Regions from separate parts of the Homo sapiens genome. Here region 1 is linked to region 2. The links come from fine-mapping of genetic effects on gene expression. Tissue or cell type: fibroblasts. Region 2 holds a variant in brackets; the other region holds the start of a gene. All regions are shown on one strand. Distances are between the middles of the regions.

Evidence for each region. PIP is the estimated chance that this variant, and not a neighbour inherited with it, causes the effect.
Region 1: EPAS1 starts here. The variant in region 2 is fine-mapped to the expression of EPAS1 in fibroblasts (GTEx, PIP above 0.99).

The regions. Positions count from the first base shown.
Region 1 is chr2:46,292,568-46,300,673 of GRCh38, forward strand. It overlaps EPAS1 (endothelial PAS domain protein 1), which reads left to right and starts at 4,840. Exons shown (of 16, transcript NM_001430.5): 1 at 4,840-5,370. The coding sequence starts at 5,345. RefSeq lists silencers at 4,294-4,873, 5,104-5,433.
Region 2 is chr2:46,064,262-46,072,367 of GRCh38, forward strand. All of the region lies in intron 10 of PRKCE (protein kinase C epsilon), which reads left to right. Among named protein-coding and RNA genes, the nearest start is that of EPAS1, 230 kb to the right of the region's middle. RefSeq lists an enhancer at 3,053-4,252. The variant A/G (reference allele first, on the strand shown) is at 3,581.

The DNA of each region.
Region 1 (8,106 bases), 230 kb after region 2:
GGAGGGTGTCTCTGACTACACCCCAACCGGCCCTGTCCTCTATGCCTGTCTTAGCCAGGTGCCAGAGAAAATCGGATGCTTGGGGCCCAATGTCATCATTTTTAGTGATATAGCACCTTCATTTCTACTCATGCCTTTTTCTAAGGTGGGGCTGGCATGTCCTTCTTATTGGCCATTCCTCCCACATGGGTGTTATTTTATCACCTCAGAGGTCACACTCATCAGCCCGGCAGCTGGGCCAGTCCAGGCTAGGCTTCTCTGGGTCCTAGCAGTGGACATGGCTGGGACTCCAGATTTTCTGGTTGTTCACCACCACCAAATTCTTACCACTCCTGTTGTTTAGGCTATAAGATTTTGCTCTCGATTTTCAAATTTAAAAATGTTAAGAGCATATAAATTGTACATATTTACCAAATTAAAAATTGGGGGAGGAAAAGGAATTACCATGTCAAAAGATACCTGATTTTGGAAGCCTTAAAACGTGTGTATTCAAAATCTGGGAAATGCAGTATGTACCCAACTGAACTATGTCCTCTTGGAGGGAAGGAAACCACCAGTGCCCTCTTCCACAGACTGATGTCTTATGCTTTCCCGGAGGCAGCAGAGCACATTGGCCCTGGACCAGTGACTCTTTCACCATTGGTTGAATGACAGTTACAAATGCACAACTCCCTTCAGAGGCAAAACTTCATTCCTAAGCCTAGCAATGGAAGATGTTAGTCTCCAAGTCATCAGTATACAGGTGTGAGGAATGGAGAAGCTGGGGTTCTTTAAAACTGCATCCTTCTTACCAGCAAGCACTTAGGAATTCAAGGAGGAAAAAAAGTTTGACTCTTGCCTCAAAAAAAAAAAAAAAAAAAAAAAGAAATCACAGAACTCTTTTTGAAAGATGACAAATTCTAGATTTGTGGGGTCAAAAGTCACAACATTTAAAAGAAGATACAGCACATGTCTGTGTGGAATATCTCACGACATTGGCCTAAAGCCAAACACAGGGGGCATAGTTTTCTGGACCTGGAGTTCAGTGACAGGGAGTGTGAGTATAGATTTTGTGAAGTCACAAAAGGGGCTGGTTTCGTTTGGATGGAGTAACATGCAAGTGTGAGGGAAGGAGTGACTCAGGCAAGGCTTTTCATAGAGAAAGAGTCTCTGCCAGCTTGTCCTCTCTCCCATCTCTGCTCCTTACCTCCCCTGCTCTCTCCACCCCGAAACCAACTAAATAGCCAGACAAGGGTCAGATGGGTATTACGTGAGATAAGGCATGTGGCAGGACAGAGGCCAGTGTACTTGCATGACTCTTAAAGGCCTCTTTTGCCTCACCCTGGTCCCAACTCCAATATGTGACAATGCATTGGAAGTTGTAAGGTACTAATGAGATAGCCCATCCTTCCAAGAGCTGTTCCTGTTAGATCCCATCCATTCCAACCTAATTTCCAACTGCATCCTGGAACATACTGTTACTTCGATGGGAGTACTGAGGCCATCTTTCTTCCACCAGCCCACTGCATCCCAGGTGCCTGCTCTCTGCCAGGTTTGTAAGTTCACACTTTATCTCTATCCCATCCTCCTGAGGGCACACCCTACAAAGAAAAGAGGAAGCAAGAGAATCAGATTTGTCCCTTGTCAAAACAAATAGGTGTTTCACTGGTGCCACAGCTTTTGTTCCCAAACCATCCAATACAGGGTTGGGGGGCAGGTAGGGAGATTTGCTGGGAGGTGGGCAGTTTGCTCCTATTTTAAGCAGCTTGGGAGCTTTGCCTACCGGTGTCCTCTGCTGCCCTCTGTGGCCACAACATCAGTGTCTCTAAAGACACCCCTCTGAATCCGGGGACCCAGCTCCCCATCCCCCACTCACTGCCCCAGCATCACCTTTCAAAGTTTTTCTCCTCTAGTTCTCCACAGGCTCTAAAAAGTAAAATTGGATGCACCCTAGCCACAGCCTGCATCTGGTTTACACTCTCAGCTCCTTCCTGCAAAGGTTATTGAGCTGAGTCCTGGAAGAAATCTCAGGCCACCCGGCTCTGCTCTAAGCAAGGCTGGGTGCAACCCTTTTGAGAGTTATTATAATGAGTTTTTGGTGTATCTCAGACACTGCCAAAATCCCGGACTTGGCAAGGTGCGGTGGCTTATGCGTATAATCCCAGCACTCTGGGAAGCCCAGGTGGGTGGATCACATGAGGCCAGGAGTTCCAGACCAGCCTGGCCAACATGGCAAAACTCCATCTCTACTAAAAATACAAAAATTAGCCGGGCATGGTGGTGCACATCTGTAGTCCTAGCTACTTGGGAGGCTGAGGCAGGGGAATAGCTTGAACCCGGGACGTGGAGGTTGCAGTGCGCCAAGATCGTGCCACTCCGCTCCAACCTGCGCAACAGAGTGAGATTGTCTAAAGAAAAAAAAAAAATCCCAGACTCAATGCCAGCTGTTTGTGTTAGCCTGGGGATCCTTCACTTATAGGGTGCAGTCTGGCCAAGAGGAAGGAGCTATATAACATGGTTGATGGAATTTCTAACATTTAAGCTCAGGGGTACATGTGCAGGATGTGCAGGTTTGTTACATAGGTAAATGTGTACCATGGTGGTCCACTGCACAGATCATCCCATCACCTAGGTATTAAGCCCAGCATCCGTTAGCTATTGTTCCTGATGCTCTCCCTCCTCCCACCCCTCACCCTCTGACACGCCCCAGTCTGTGCTGTTCCTCCCATGTGTCCATGTCTTCTTAGGTTGATGTGGTCTTGAGTGACCCCTCCTTGCCTTTCCTCTTTAAAAACAAGATCTAAAAGGCTATGTTCTCTATGGGTTGGAGGTGTTGCCTCGATCTGTCAAGCACAGTCCAGGACTCAGAGGCTGTTGTGGTGAACTACTGTAGGCACCTGGAAGCCACCAAGGTGCCCTTTTCCCGCACTCTAGTCCCAAGTGAGGGAAATAAGCCTATGGTTAAGGGAGAACTATCTACCAATTTGAACTCATTAAAATACATAAATGTGTCCACTAGAAATGGCTGGCTGGAGAAGCCCAGTACCAAATCACCCCGTTCCTGAAACCCACCAGCCCCATGAAATAGTTCGCTAGAGAGAGATTTGCAATCTTTGAATTCGTTGACTATCAACCTGTATAGGTGCTCCGTGCCCCGAGATCTGAGAAAATGACAAAATACGTCTACTTCCCGGCCGGGCACAGTGACTCACGCCTGTAATCCCAATACTTTGAGAGGCCAAGTTGGGCAGATCACTTGAGGTCAGGAGTTTGAGACCAGCCTGGCCAACATGGTAAAACTCCCGTCTCTACTAAAAATACAAAAATTAGCTGAGGGTGGTGGTGGGCGCCTTTAATTCCAGTTACTCCGGAGGCTGAGCCACAAGAATCGCGGGAAGCGGAGGTTGCAGTGAGTCGAGATGGGGCCACAGCACTCCAGCCTGGGCGACAGAGTGGGACTCAGTCTCAAAAAAAAAAAAAAAGTATTTCCCAATTCTTCGTCAGTTTTTGCCCTCTCCCCACTTCGCCTTCTCCAGGCTCCTGAAAAGTATCTCCCCCAACCCTTTCTGTGTACACGGGGAAAACACGTGTTCATTTTTATTATGGCGCTGAAACCTACCCTTCTCTTCAAATCGCTTCTGTAGATCGTTCTAGTATAAAATGTGGCAAGAGGCTAAAGGGAGAGATATAGACCAGTTCTTTGGCCCTCGCTTTCCAACTTCAAGTTACACCTGTGAAACTCATGGGTCCTTCCACAGCCTTCAAAAACTAAGGGCGTCCCCTGTCCTCTCCCCAGATGTCCCTTCCCCATCGCCGGTAGCGAGTGGGAGACAGCTCAGCGCGGGGCAGGGGAGCACTGGGCCCGGAGATGGAAGGCAGCGTCAAAAGCGCCGCTGGAAAATCCCTGAGCGCTAACCGTTGCCTGTGTGAGCCCTTAAATCTACAAATTTCCAACACCTGTAGCCTTTGGGTTTCCCAGGACTTCCATCGACCCTGGCGGCAGAGAGGGCAGGCCTGAGATGCAGTGACTTGAGGGCACATGGCCAACTCTTGTCACTCCAAGATCACACTGGGGAACCAGACTGACTTCTCCAATTCTGAACTCGCCCCGGCCTCGGGCGGCTCAAAGGGCCTCCTCTGCCGCATCCCCGCCAAAACCAAACCGCCTGGCACAAGCCGGTAAGCAACCACCCTGCTGGGAGAGGGAAGGAAGAGTAGGCGCAGCCCTAGATCAATTTCCTTGCACTGCTTCTCCCAGACGGTCAAGTCAGCTGCGTCCCACCGAAAAGGGCGCATCGCCCACGCCCGAAACGCAGCCGCTGGGGGCCGAGAAATTATCCCCACCTGGCCCGAGGGCCAGGGACGCAGGAGCGCAGCAGCGTGGAGGGGCTCCGCGCTGGCCCGGCGCTGCCCGCGGTCCTGCCCTCGTTCCAAGGGCACGGCGCCGGTACGAGGACACCGACGCTGTGGCGCAACTGCCGTCCCCCGCAGCAATCCCGGAGCCCGGCTCCCGGCCGCCCCTCGGCCCTGCGCAGGCTGCCTCTCCCCGACGCGGAGTCCCACCCCGCTACCCGCCGCCCAGACGACCTCATAAACAAGTCCTCGAAGTGCGGAGGCAGGAGGCGGGGCGCAGCGCGGGGGCAGGAGGCGGGCCAGGGTCAGGGCAGAGGCTGCGGCCGCGCGTCCCCATTGGCCGGGACGCAGTGAGCCGCCCGGAGCTCGGCGCGGGCGGGGCCTGCCGGCGCGTGCCCGCCCACACACCCGCGCCGGTGCCCGCCCCCCGCCCTCCGCGCCCGCCCCGTGCCCGCCCCAAGCCGGCCGACGGAGTTTTTAAAGTGGGCTGCCGGCCGCGGGAGCTTTACACTCGCGAGCGGACCGCCACACGGGTCCGGTGCCCGCTGCGCTTCCGCCCCAGCGCTCCTGAGGCGGCCGTACAATCCTCGGCAGTGTCCTGAGACTGTATGGTCAGCTCAGCCCGGCCTCCGACTCCTTCCGACTCCCAGCATTCGAGCCACTTTTTTTTTTCTTTGAAAACTCAGAAAAGTGACTCCTTTTCCAGGGAAAAAGGAACTTGGGTTCCCTTCTCTCCGTCCTCTTTTCGGGTCTGACAGCCTCCACCCACTCCTTCCCCGGACCCCGCCTCCGCGCGCAGGTTCCTCCCAGTCACCTTTCTCCACCCCCGCCCCCGCACCTAGCCCGCCGCGCGCCACCTTCCACCTGACTGCGCGGGGCGCTCGGGACCTGCGCGCACCTCGGACCTTCACCACCCGCCCGGGCCGCGGGGAGCGGACGAGGGCCACAGCCCCCCACCCGCCAGGGAGCCCAGGTGCTCGGCGTCTGAACGTCTCAAAGGGCCACAGCGACAATGACAGCTGACAAGGAGAAGAAAAGGTAAGCGGGCGTCCGGGCCGATCAGGGGGCCGGTCCGAGGCCAGGGCCGGGCTGCGCGGGGCAGGCGCGACCGAGAGTGGTTGGGAGAAGAGTGCTGAGAGGTCTTCGGAGCTCGAGGCTCGGTTTGGAGGGCTGTGAGGGGGAGAGCATGTGCCCGGTTTGGGGGCGCGGATCAGCAGCTTTGCAGTGGAGACTTCTGCGGCTCGGAGGAGTCGGGGATTTGCGCGCACGGCGAGGCCAGGAGGCCGAGGGAGATGGCCTGGAGGTCGGAGGTGCTTCCGCGGTGCCTTTGAAAATCTCCCAGCCGCCCCGCAGCAGATTACCGTGGCCACCGGCGCTTGGAAATGTTTGTGGGTGCATGTCCTCGACTTTCTCTGGTCTCTCATTTTGGGGCAGCATCCACGTCTCTATTTTTCTCTGGATTCGCGGAGTCCTTCCAAATGCGCTCCTGTGCCCGCGCCGCGGCCCAAGTGGGCAAAGGGGGGCGGGAGGCGGAGAGCGGCTCAGGGACACGATCCTACCGAGGAGCCAGGACCCTTCAGAGCGCCCCGCTGCCGGGCTCCAGACCCCACCGAAGGTTGGAGAACCCACTTCCTCGTGCCGCACCTTGACTCTGGGGAGAGTAGGTAGTGAGTGACCTGGATTGCCCTGCGGGGGCAGATGGTTCGGTGTGTAGGAAGCGGACGGCAACACTGGATGTCCCTGGCAGGTCCGGGTGTCTGTCTCCGAAGAGGACAGAGAAGGGCAGCCACGATCTGCCCGCCTGCCCTCGCGAGCCTCTCGGCACTGGGTGAGAGGCAACTCTGGCCATTTCTTGCTGCCCTCTCGCCCTCTCCCGGCCGCTCCCAGTCCAGCCGGGCCCGGCGCTACCCGAGCGAGGGTTCGAGCCCTCTGCGCGGCCGCGCAGAAGCAGGCAGGGCCTCAACTTCTGCAAATGTGTGCGGCTCGCCGCCTGTCCCCTTTCTCCTCCTGTCTCCACCCGTGCGGCCCCAGTGGCCTGGAGCTTCCAGCCCCGCGCTTGGCCGCGGCTTGGCGAGGCTATGCTGCGGGAAGCTGGAATCCAACGCGCGGCCGGCTGAACCGCCTGAGCCGCGGGAAACCAGCGGCGGAGCGGCGGTATAGAGGTGCGAGGATGAGGAGGACCGACTCGCTAAGGGAGGGAGGTGACTGGCCGGGAGGGCTCACTGCCGAGGTTGATTTGCTCTTGTTCCAACTTCCACTACGGGACTGGAGCCAGAAACCGTGTATCCTCCGGTCGAAAGCAGCGGTTCCCACCTCGGGGCACCGATAAGGATTTGATAAACGGGAGCGAATCGCGCCTGTCCTGGCTCGGCGCCCGGGCCCTTCACTGCGGGATCGCTAGGGGAGGGGATTGGGCCCTGCTCCCCTTTCCTGGCCGTAGTCCCCCCTTTCTCGTCACCGTCGCGCCCTCAGACCCAAGACAAGTGAGGGAGCCCTGAGACTGCAGCCGGCACATTCCCAGGGCCCTCGGAGCAGTCCTGGGGTTCCATGTCTTTTGAAGGCAGCAGAGCAAGGAAAAGACTCTTAAGATTCCAGTGCGTTTTGTAAAAACCAATCATAATGCTAATAATGACTGAACCATCGAAAAGCAAAGTTATAGACAGCGCCTGCAGACGCTTTCGGGTCCGGAGCCGGGGAGGGAACTTGTGTATTTTACAACTGCGATGCCTATCGGGAATGTGGCAATCGCCGAGGTGGGGCCTGACAGTAATCTTGACAAATGTGTGAAGTGTCAGCTCCTCCTGCGCTCCTTAGCGCCGGGTTTTGTGCAGTTTTGTACCGTATATACCGAGAAACTTGGGAGCAGGGGAAAAATGATTTCGACACACCCAGCTACAGTACCTGGTTCGTTAGCGGACTGTTGGAAAGAGAGAAGAAGCGGGAATGGGAGCGGGAAGAACGTTGCGTAATTAGACTCCCAATTATTGGCGAGAGCGGCCGCTTTAAGAACCACTGTGGGGACTGCCTGCGAAACGCCTTGGAGGCCGCTGTGTGAGCTGCGGCTCCGGGCTGGTGGCCACGCGAGGGTGTCCGCCCTCTTCGACCTGCCTGGATTTTTGTGCTGCAGAATGGCAGGGCAAACAGCGTGTCCTTCACCATCTAGAGCCCCTTAAGGGGTTGTCCAATTCCTATTGGGCTAATCAGTTTGAGACTCATTTACTTTTCGTGCCTGGGTCTGTTTGCTGGCTGCAGGCTTCTTTAGGGACCAAGATGTAATTAAAATATGTGAACCAATACATTGAAAGTTGGTGTTGTCATGTAAGTGACTGCTGTAGCTTTTCTGAGTGCCTCACAAGGGCGATGTGACAGTGAGGGGGCTCTCTGCTGATGATTCTGCCCACTAGTTCTTACATTTTGTGTTTCTTTGGTTTAGCAGAGCAGTTTCTTCCCCCAAATGCAATATGGGCAGAACATTTGGAATATTCGTTCTAACAATGGCCCGTCAAGAAGTGGGCAGATGATTTTGTCCCAGAATGTTCACACGTCGATAAATATGTTAATGTTTAATAATAAAGAGTTTGCTTTCTAAATGTTAGTTGGCTGGGTGTCCTTGATAGTACCAGTTTTGGTGGTAGTGGGCATTTGCGGTGACATCACAGATGTCAGAAACTGAAGCCTGGTGGGTGGGGGTACTGCACTTTCACTCACCTTTTTGTGCACGCATCTATCAGGAATGCCTGAGTCCTTTCACTGGGAAAAAAATGTGGAAATTCT
Region 2 (8,106 bases):
CAGAGTGAGACTCTGTCTCAAAAAAAAAAAAAAAAAAAAAAGAAAAAGAAAATTGTTAACTGCCCTTAAAAATATAGTCGTTCTCCTTCGACACTCAAAAGTTCTCTATTTGCAAATGAAGTTCATATGAATTTGTTAATGATTCACTTCTCAGTAATTGGCAATCCCAAATTAATCAGATTTCCTTGCACTAATGGTTTCTTTAATAAATGATATTAGATGGTAATAGAAAGGACAGTCTTGGCAATAACTGCTTAAATCATAGCATGAGGGATTTAGATTTTCATCAGCAGCTTGCACCAGAAGCAGAGTCTGACTGAATATTATCTCCTTTGTAGATTAGATAGAAGAAGAATTAGGGAGATACAAAGAAGCATTTTCTAAGCATAGTTAGACTCTGATTTTGGTGACAGTACGAACTAGGGAAGTTGGAAAATGCCTCATTGGCCTAAAACTGGTAACATATAATAAACTAGGACTGGAGGCAAAATTACAGAAGTTTTTTTGGTAATTCTCTTGGGCTCTTTCTGGGGGATTCTTAGTCTTATAGAATTTTGCTACTTGATGCTCATCCATGGCCTGTGGAATGTATCGTCCTTTCATGTGGGTGTGGGGAGAAAAGGACTGGGGCAGTGGGAAAGGGGAGGCCCCATTGTTGCCAACACCAAGCCCAAGCTTTCTGTAGATGTGGCTCCCCATTTTCAACTAGAAGAAGAGAAATTTTTCATGTTCTAGCTTGAGAAGCCATGCTCTTAAGTTATTTGACCCTGTACATCCTCGACCCTTCAAAATATTTAAATTATTCCACACTTCAGCGCTGGCATCACAGATTATACGATAATAATTTACCAAGCTTCTTTTCTGCAAACAGGTAAAGGAGGAGGAGACATGGGTGGTAATGTAATTTCTGGATAGTTTAAACCTAAAAGCCTGCTATTAAGAGAAAAGGGGAAAATGACTGTTCAAGACCTGTATCTTGAAAGAATGCTGTTTATCTAGTATTCAGGGGCCAGGGAGTGTGTCTGTGGGTAAACTAAGCAATTCCTCCAAGAATTCTGACGGGAAACAGTTTTGGGGTTTGTCATAGTTTCTAATATTCTCTTAAAATAATCTGTTTCCCAACAAGTAAAAGCAGACGTCATTTCACGTAAAGAATTTCTCTGACTCCACCAGTAGCCCTTCCATCTTCTCATTTGTCCGGTTAAGCTTGAGTCAGAAAAAGAACACAACAATTTTGGTAAAAAATTTGTTGTTCTTCTCATCTGAATAGCCAAAAGTTATTGGTGTGTAAGGACCACAGTTCAGATAAGAGCTACTGTAACTAAATTTAGAGAAATTACTTTTCAGATCGACTTTCCTGTTCTAAAATTACATACTTCTGGTTGGTCTTTGCTTTATCTTCCTAATCAAGATCTGAGGTCACTGGAGGTCAGAAACATATGGCAAAAAGGAATTTAAATATTTTCCAATTAAAAAATTATCCTAAAATATCTTTATTATATTTCCAAGCCATAAATGATCACAGGTGCTTTGAGCCATGGTACTGATCCCAGGAAAGTGTTTGCAAACGTTTAAAAAATAGAATGGATCAGTTGATTCATGCTTTAGCTGATGGCACGGTCTCTTGGGAAGCTAACCCACTCTTGCCTCTTGCCCATGGGGCCAGGGGAACACTGCTGTTTAATTTGTCTTAAATACCTCTTCTGAGACTGTATTGGTCCCCGACCACCCATTTGCAAAGATCCAGCATCCGTCAAGACTATTTAACAGACGTTCCAAAAAGCTGGATGCTGACAGTCCAACTGTCATTTTAACCTTGGCATCTCCCATGACAGAGTGTGGAGCAGCAGGCTGTGACCTAGAGGAAAGACACAGAAGTGGTGAGGGGTTGCAGGGGCTGTAGCGTGGTGAGATGGCCCTGTACAATATCAGGTGAAGGGGAAGCATTTATAAACTTCCTTTGTTTTGATGTATCTGTTTTTCCCCCTATTTCTGCCTATACACCTACTTGAGCACTGGCTTGGCTAAAGTTACCCCCAAGAAAATGTTGAAGTAATGAGTCACCTACCTCACTTCATTTTTTTGAGACCTCACTTTCTTTCCTTCCTTTCTTTCCCTCCGAATTTATGAATGAAAATAGATAGGTAGAGGTTGAATTGGCTAAGGCTGTCTGTTGCTTTTTGATTTTCCCATCTCCAGGGGAAGAGGGCAGGGAACGATCCACTCCAATTAGGAATCCTAGACTTATATTCATTTAACAACTTTATATTATCCAGAACATTTTGTACAAATACATTGTAGAAATAAGTTATTTCTAGTGCTTGGGGCATAGTCTGTGAACTGATTTGTCTGTATATCTCGTAAATTTTCCATTTAGATGATCAGAGCAGGACAGAAGTTTCTCGCTGTGCTCTTAGGCTACAGGCAACTGTTGTCACTGGCTGACCCTTGGTTATAAGTACGTGGGAACTATGTCCTGGGCTTCACAGACAGGAGGAGAAGAGTTAGTTCTGTGGTGAGCTGTGTCTTTGGGGTGGTGGGAAGTCAACCCCAAAGAATGATTCTTATCATTGCTTCTTTTTTAACTAAGTTGGCAGAGTTTTATCTTCTCCATAGATACGTGGTAAAGGAAACTCATTTGAACCATTTGAACTGGTGGTTAATCTGAGTAATATGGAATATGTTCAAAGTGATGACATTGTATTACTTCTGTGCATGGACAGGAACTAGAACGGCTAATAAAATTGTTGTCAGGTAGAAGTTCTGAAGAGCCTGACATGATAAAAAGATAAGGATCATTTTAACCAGCACATTTGCTAAATAGGTAGTTGTTACTGCTGTGCCAAAAATTTCTTTCTATTCTTAAATTATTTAAAACATTATCTACCTTTGCATTGGCTATTAATTGGCCAAGCAATGCATTCCTTTCTACAGATAAATGTTCAGCCTGGTCCTATACAAGATATCACCATATCCTATTTGAACAAGTGCCAAATGAATGACGTGCATTATATATACTGAGTCTTCATCCATCAAAATAATTTTATTTAAACAGTTTGGATTAATAGGAAAAGAATGGTACTTAAAGTAGTGGTTCAGAGTCACAATAAACAGCCTGAGGTGACATCTGAGAGGCAGTTTTGGCGCTACCTGGAAGGCAGAGGTGACAGGAGTACCTGTTAGCCGAAGGCAGTGAGTTTTATGCTGTGGCCTGGCCTTTGCTCCCTGCAGTCTTTCTCGTCTCTTCCACATGTTTGGTGCGTATTCAGGTTTGGGCCCAGCCTACGTGGTGCAAAATGAAACACCATGTGTAATTTCAAGGGTGGACACATCTTAGAGTTCTGAGCAAAAGAAGAATGAGCACTTTATGTGTTGCAGGAACGCTGCTTGCATCTAGTAGATGCTCACAATGTATCTGCTGAACATTGAATGGCATTCATGAAATTAACGCATAAAACTTCCCGTTAGTTTAAAGCAGAGCCTGGGGGTCTACAGTGGAGGGCTTGCCCATCCTTATCAAGCTAGACAACTTGGTAATAACTACTTAGCTAACTCTCCTAACGCTACAGACCAAGAATAT[A/G]ACGCAAGGTAGGGGTACAGTAAAAGTCATGTGAATCTGGAATGCCGGTATTCCAGGCATTTGTTGTGGGTTTCCTGGCATTAGATTGTTCATGGGTCAGTATTGCAAGAGAATGCACATTTTTTACATCATACTCTCGTTGAAGGCAGGGTTTCCTTACTGGCTTACTGATTATATCACTCGCGAAGGGATTAGTCAGAAGGCAATGGAAACATCTTTCGTTTTCATTGTTCAGAGAGAGACTGGGGGTTTGTCTGCACTTTTACATTATCAGTGGGTAGAATCTCCCTTTGAGATTCTTAACAGAGGGTCATGAATTAGTATAAACCTTAGCTGGTCTGTATCCAGGATGAAAAAAATAATCTATTTTGGTGAGCCACTTGAGTCATAGGCTATCTAACTTACGAGCATGCCTACTCTGTTAGGTCCAGTAAAGGATTCAGAAAGAGACTTCAGGAGCTGCCCTGGGAAACAAGACAATAAAACAGTGTTGAATTAGGTTTTCTAGAGTAATGGTGCTCACCCACCTTGGTAGTTCAGACAATCATAGCAGAGCAGAACCAAAATGATATTAAATATATTAATTGATATATCTAATTAATCAGTCATTATTTATTGGTGTACCATTAGGTGCAAGGTATAATTCCTACTCATGAGGACTGAGAAAGACCAGTTGAAGAAGGGTAGAAAAATAATACCAACTTTAAAAAACTCTCTCTGATGTAACAATATAAGGCAATGGTAGAAGGTTGTCACATACAGAATAAGATCAATCATCAGATGTGTAGTTTAAGGATTGCCGTGAATTCAGAAGCAGAAGAATTCTCCAAGGGCTGTCTTCATTTGCAAAGGCATCACCAATGAGCAGGAGGATAGGAAATGCCTGGCATGTAGACGGGAGAGACTTGGAGCAGTTGCCCAAATGCCTCAGAAGTAACCAAGAGCAAGAAGTGGTTGTGATATTAAAAGAGATCAGCTCAAGTAGGGACTTGTGAGATACCAGATTGAAATTTAGATTACCACCAGACGACAGGAGCTGTGGTCCTTGTGACTCCAAGGGTGATCCCTAGACTAGCAGCATTGCATTACCTGGGAGCCTCTTAGAAATGCAGGATTTCCGGTCCCAACTTAGACCTGCAGAATCAGAATATTTGGGTGTGGAGTCCAGGAATTATGCTATAAAAACTGTCCAGTTGATTCTTCTGCATGCTCAAGTGTGGAAAGCACTGCTGCTTAGAACTGGGGCTTGGTTCCAAATGACAATGGAGATGCTTTGAAGAATCATTGAAGATGCTTTGAAGAGGAGAAGTGGCATGTCTTCTAGTGAGCAGACAGACCAGGGCATTTCAGAGACTTTCTTTTACGTGGTAGCCTCTGCTGTATTCTCACTTACCTGTTGCTCACCACCTGGAAAGTGAAATATCTCCAAATTGCCAGTCACTAACTATTGAAGTTGAAATTACATGACTGTTCTCTGAAGTGGTTTCTGAAGGCTGTCAGTAGGCCTTTTCTGGATTCTGATATGGTATGCGTCTAAAATATGTTTCTGTAAGTAAGGATTTTTTAAAGTATATACTTTGCAAAAAAAAATACTCCAATCAACAATAAGAACAACTATAGGGTACTTAGAGTTTAGAACATAAAAGTCATTCATATGTTTTCTAACCATTTAAAAAATCAGTTTCCTGTATTTTGATTCCATTCATTTATCTAGCACTTATCAGGAAATTCAGGTTTCCATGTTACACAGTTTATATGGGCCCTTATAAATCAGTATACCACTTTGATGGAAAAAATTTCCAAACTAAATCATTGCATAATCATTCATAGCAATAGCATCACTGTTATAATAAAATTAGCACAAATTTTAAAGTCTTGGTAAAAAGATTTTTGAATCTTATTTTAGTTTTTCTTGGCAACTTTGGTGTAACAGTTGGCTATAAGAAGGGCTATAAGATGTTAGGATTGCTATTCCTGCTTTAAATAGTTCCAGATTGGCAATTTTGGGGCAATTCTAGCGGTCACCTATTCCCTTATTTCCTAAGCTGGGAAGAATGGAATTTTCTTAAGGTTGAAATCCTAACCTGAATTTTACTGATAGAACCACAAAGTGGTACCTAGCCGACAGATTCACACATGGTGTTCACTTCTGCTGTTGAGTAGCACGTGGGTCCTGGTGCTAGTGTTTCTTTTCCTGCTCAGAGGACCTCTTCTCTCTTACTGATTTACAGTGACGTCCAGATGGTGGAGTTTGCTACAAAGCAGCCCACTGTATGAAAGACATGACATTGTATTCACCTGGACTCTAGGTTGACTCTAAAGAAGGCAAGGGTCCTTTGGTCACAGGGAGAACTGTTGTGTTCCTTCACGAGGTAGCAGAGACTTTGTGTTCTAGAGACTTGAGACCACCTCTATAAATATAACCAGAGCACAGGCTTCCTGTGTGGACCCTCAATACACATTTTTGAATGTTAGCCTCAAGCACCTTCATTTTTGATGTATAAAAAAATGGCATTTTATGGCTGGGCGCGGTGGCGCATGCCTGTAATCCCAGCACTTGTGGAGGCCAAGGAGGGTGGATCACGAGGTCAGGAGATCAAGACCATCCTGGCCAACATGGTGAAATCCTGTCTCTACTAAAAATACAAAAAATTAGCCAGGTGTGGTGACATGCACCTGTAGTCCCAGCTTTTCAGGAGGCTGAGGCAGGAGAATCGCTTGAACCCTGGAGGTGGAGGTTGCAGTGAGCTGAGATCATGCCACTGCACTCCAGCCTTAGCGACAGAGCAAGACTCCGTCTCAAAAAAAAAACAAAAACAAAAACAAAGGTGGCATTTTATTGACAGCTCTATTGAATGATGGTGAGGGTGACTCCTGGAGTAACAGAAAGAGCCCCTGGCTTTGGGACAGACACGGGGTCAAATTCTGGCTGTGCTACTTACTAGTTCCATGGCCTTGGGCAAGTCAACTCCTCTGAGCCTCTGTATCTTTGTGTCAAATGTGGATGTTAACATTTGCTTTCATAATTCTTGCATCAATGGAAAAGTAGCTTATATTTGACATATAGGAGGTGCTCAATAAATGATAGCCATGATTACTCTTTACTTGTTAATTATGTCCTCTCATTTGCCTTAGATTATCATTTTCTAAGCAAACAAAAAGGCCAAGATGGAGATGGTTTGCTCCAAACAGCTAGGTCTCATCACTGTTCTCTTAAGTAAACCAAATGCGTAGAGATGCCCATGTCCTCATGGCTTTCCTGCACCCAGAAAACCCACACCCTACTCATTTTGACACCTTCCCCCTAAATCTCCACTCTTCTATGGAAACTTCCAAATAATAAAATACCATCGAATAATGTTAACGTATTTCATTGGAGTTTCTCATCTCTCCAAAGAGATTGTAGCCTTTTTGAAGTCCTCTATAAATATGTACTAGTCAGCTGATTTGAAATTTGTTTATCATGGAGCCATAGGCTGCTACTGAATGAAGACTAGTGAATGAAAAATCAGAACTAATATTTTCCTGAGCAATTTTTAAGGGGTAGGCAGCTACAATAAAGACACCTTATTTTAGTTTTCCATGAAGTAGCTACTATTGAATCTCGATTTTACAAATAGGGAAACCAGCATTTCCTTTTGTCCAAGTTCATGCAGCTTGTTCACGCAGCTGAGCTAGGATTTTAACCCAGGCAGTCAGGATTCCAAGGCCAAGTTTGGACCCCTATACCACACCAATGAGAATGAAGGATGAGGAAAGCTATAGGAAACTTTAAAAACGTCCATGGAAGGAGTGCCCAAACAGGGACTGACTACAGTCAAATCATGAACTGTTTCAGTTAGGTTCCCAGGCATTTGTGACATTACCCACTCTGTTTAGATAACGAATTTATGTGTTTAGAGAGACCAGCCTCCTATCTGCATTGTCAGCCATCAGTCTAAATCAAAGCTTCCACCCAGTCCTGAATCTCTCCCTTACTTGGTCTAACCACCTTTCCAAGTATTTAGGAACAAAAGATTTGTGAACAGATTAAACACAGGCTGCTTTTGTTCCACTCCTACAGCTACCTATGCCTGCTTAATGCGGACTACAGGGTGTAGACTGGAGTCTGCGCTCGTGTATTTTAAACACACGCGGGAATTCAGCACCTTCCTCCGACAGCACAACAATGGTTCAACAATTCTTCACAGAAGACCCCGCGCTATTATAGCAAATATTTATAAGTTTATCTCACCACACTGCTCAGTGTTCAGAGTAAATCTGAATGGAAATATGGAGATCAAAGAATTTAATAATTTAAAAAACCCTTTCACGCTTTATCTGTCATCAAATGAAAGTATTAGTGAAGTGGTATGGAAATCCTCTTCAGCGTGCCTTCAGCCACCAGCTGTGCCACTTAAGATTTAAAACAATGTGATCAAGTGTTCAGAATCCATGGGATTGAGTTGTATGTTTACGTTAGTGTATTATTTCCAAGTTTCCAGTTTCCCCCGGATTAGCACATTTTAATTTCGGCTTTATTAAAG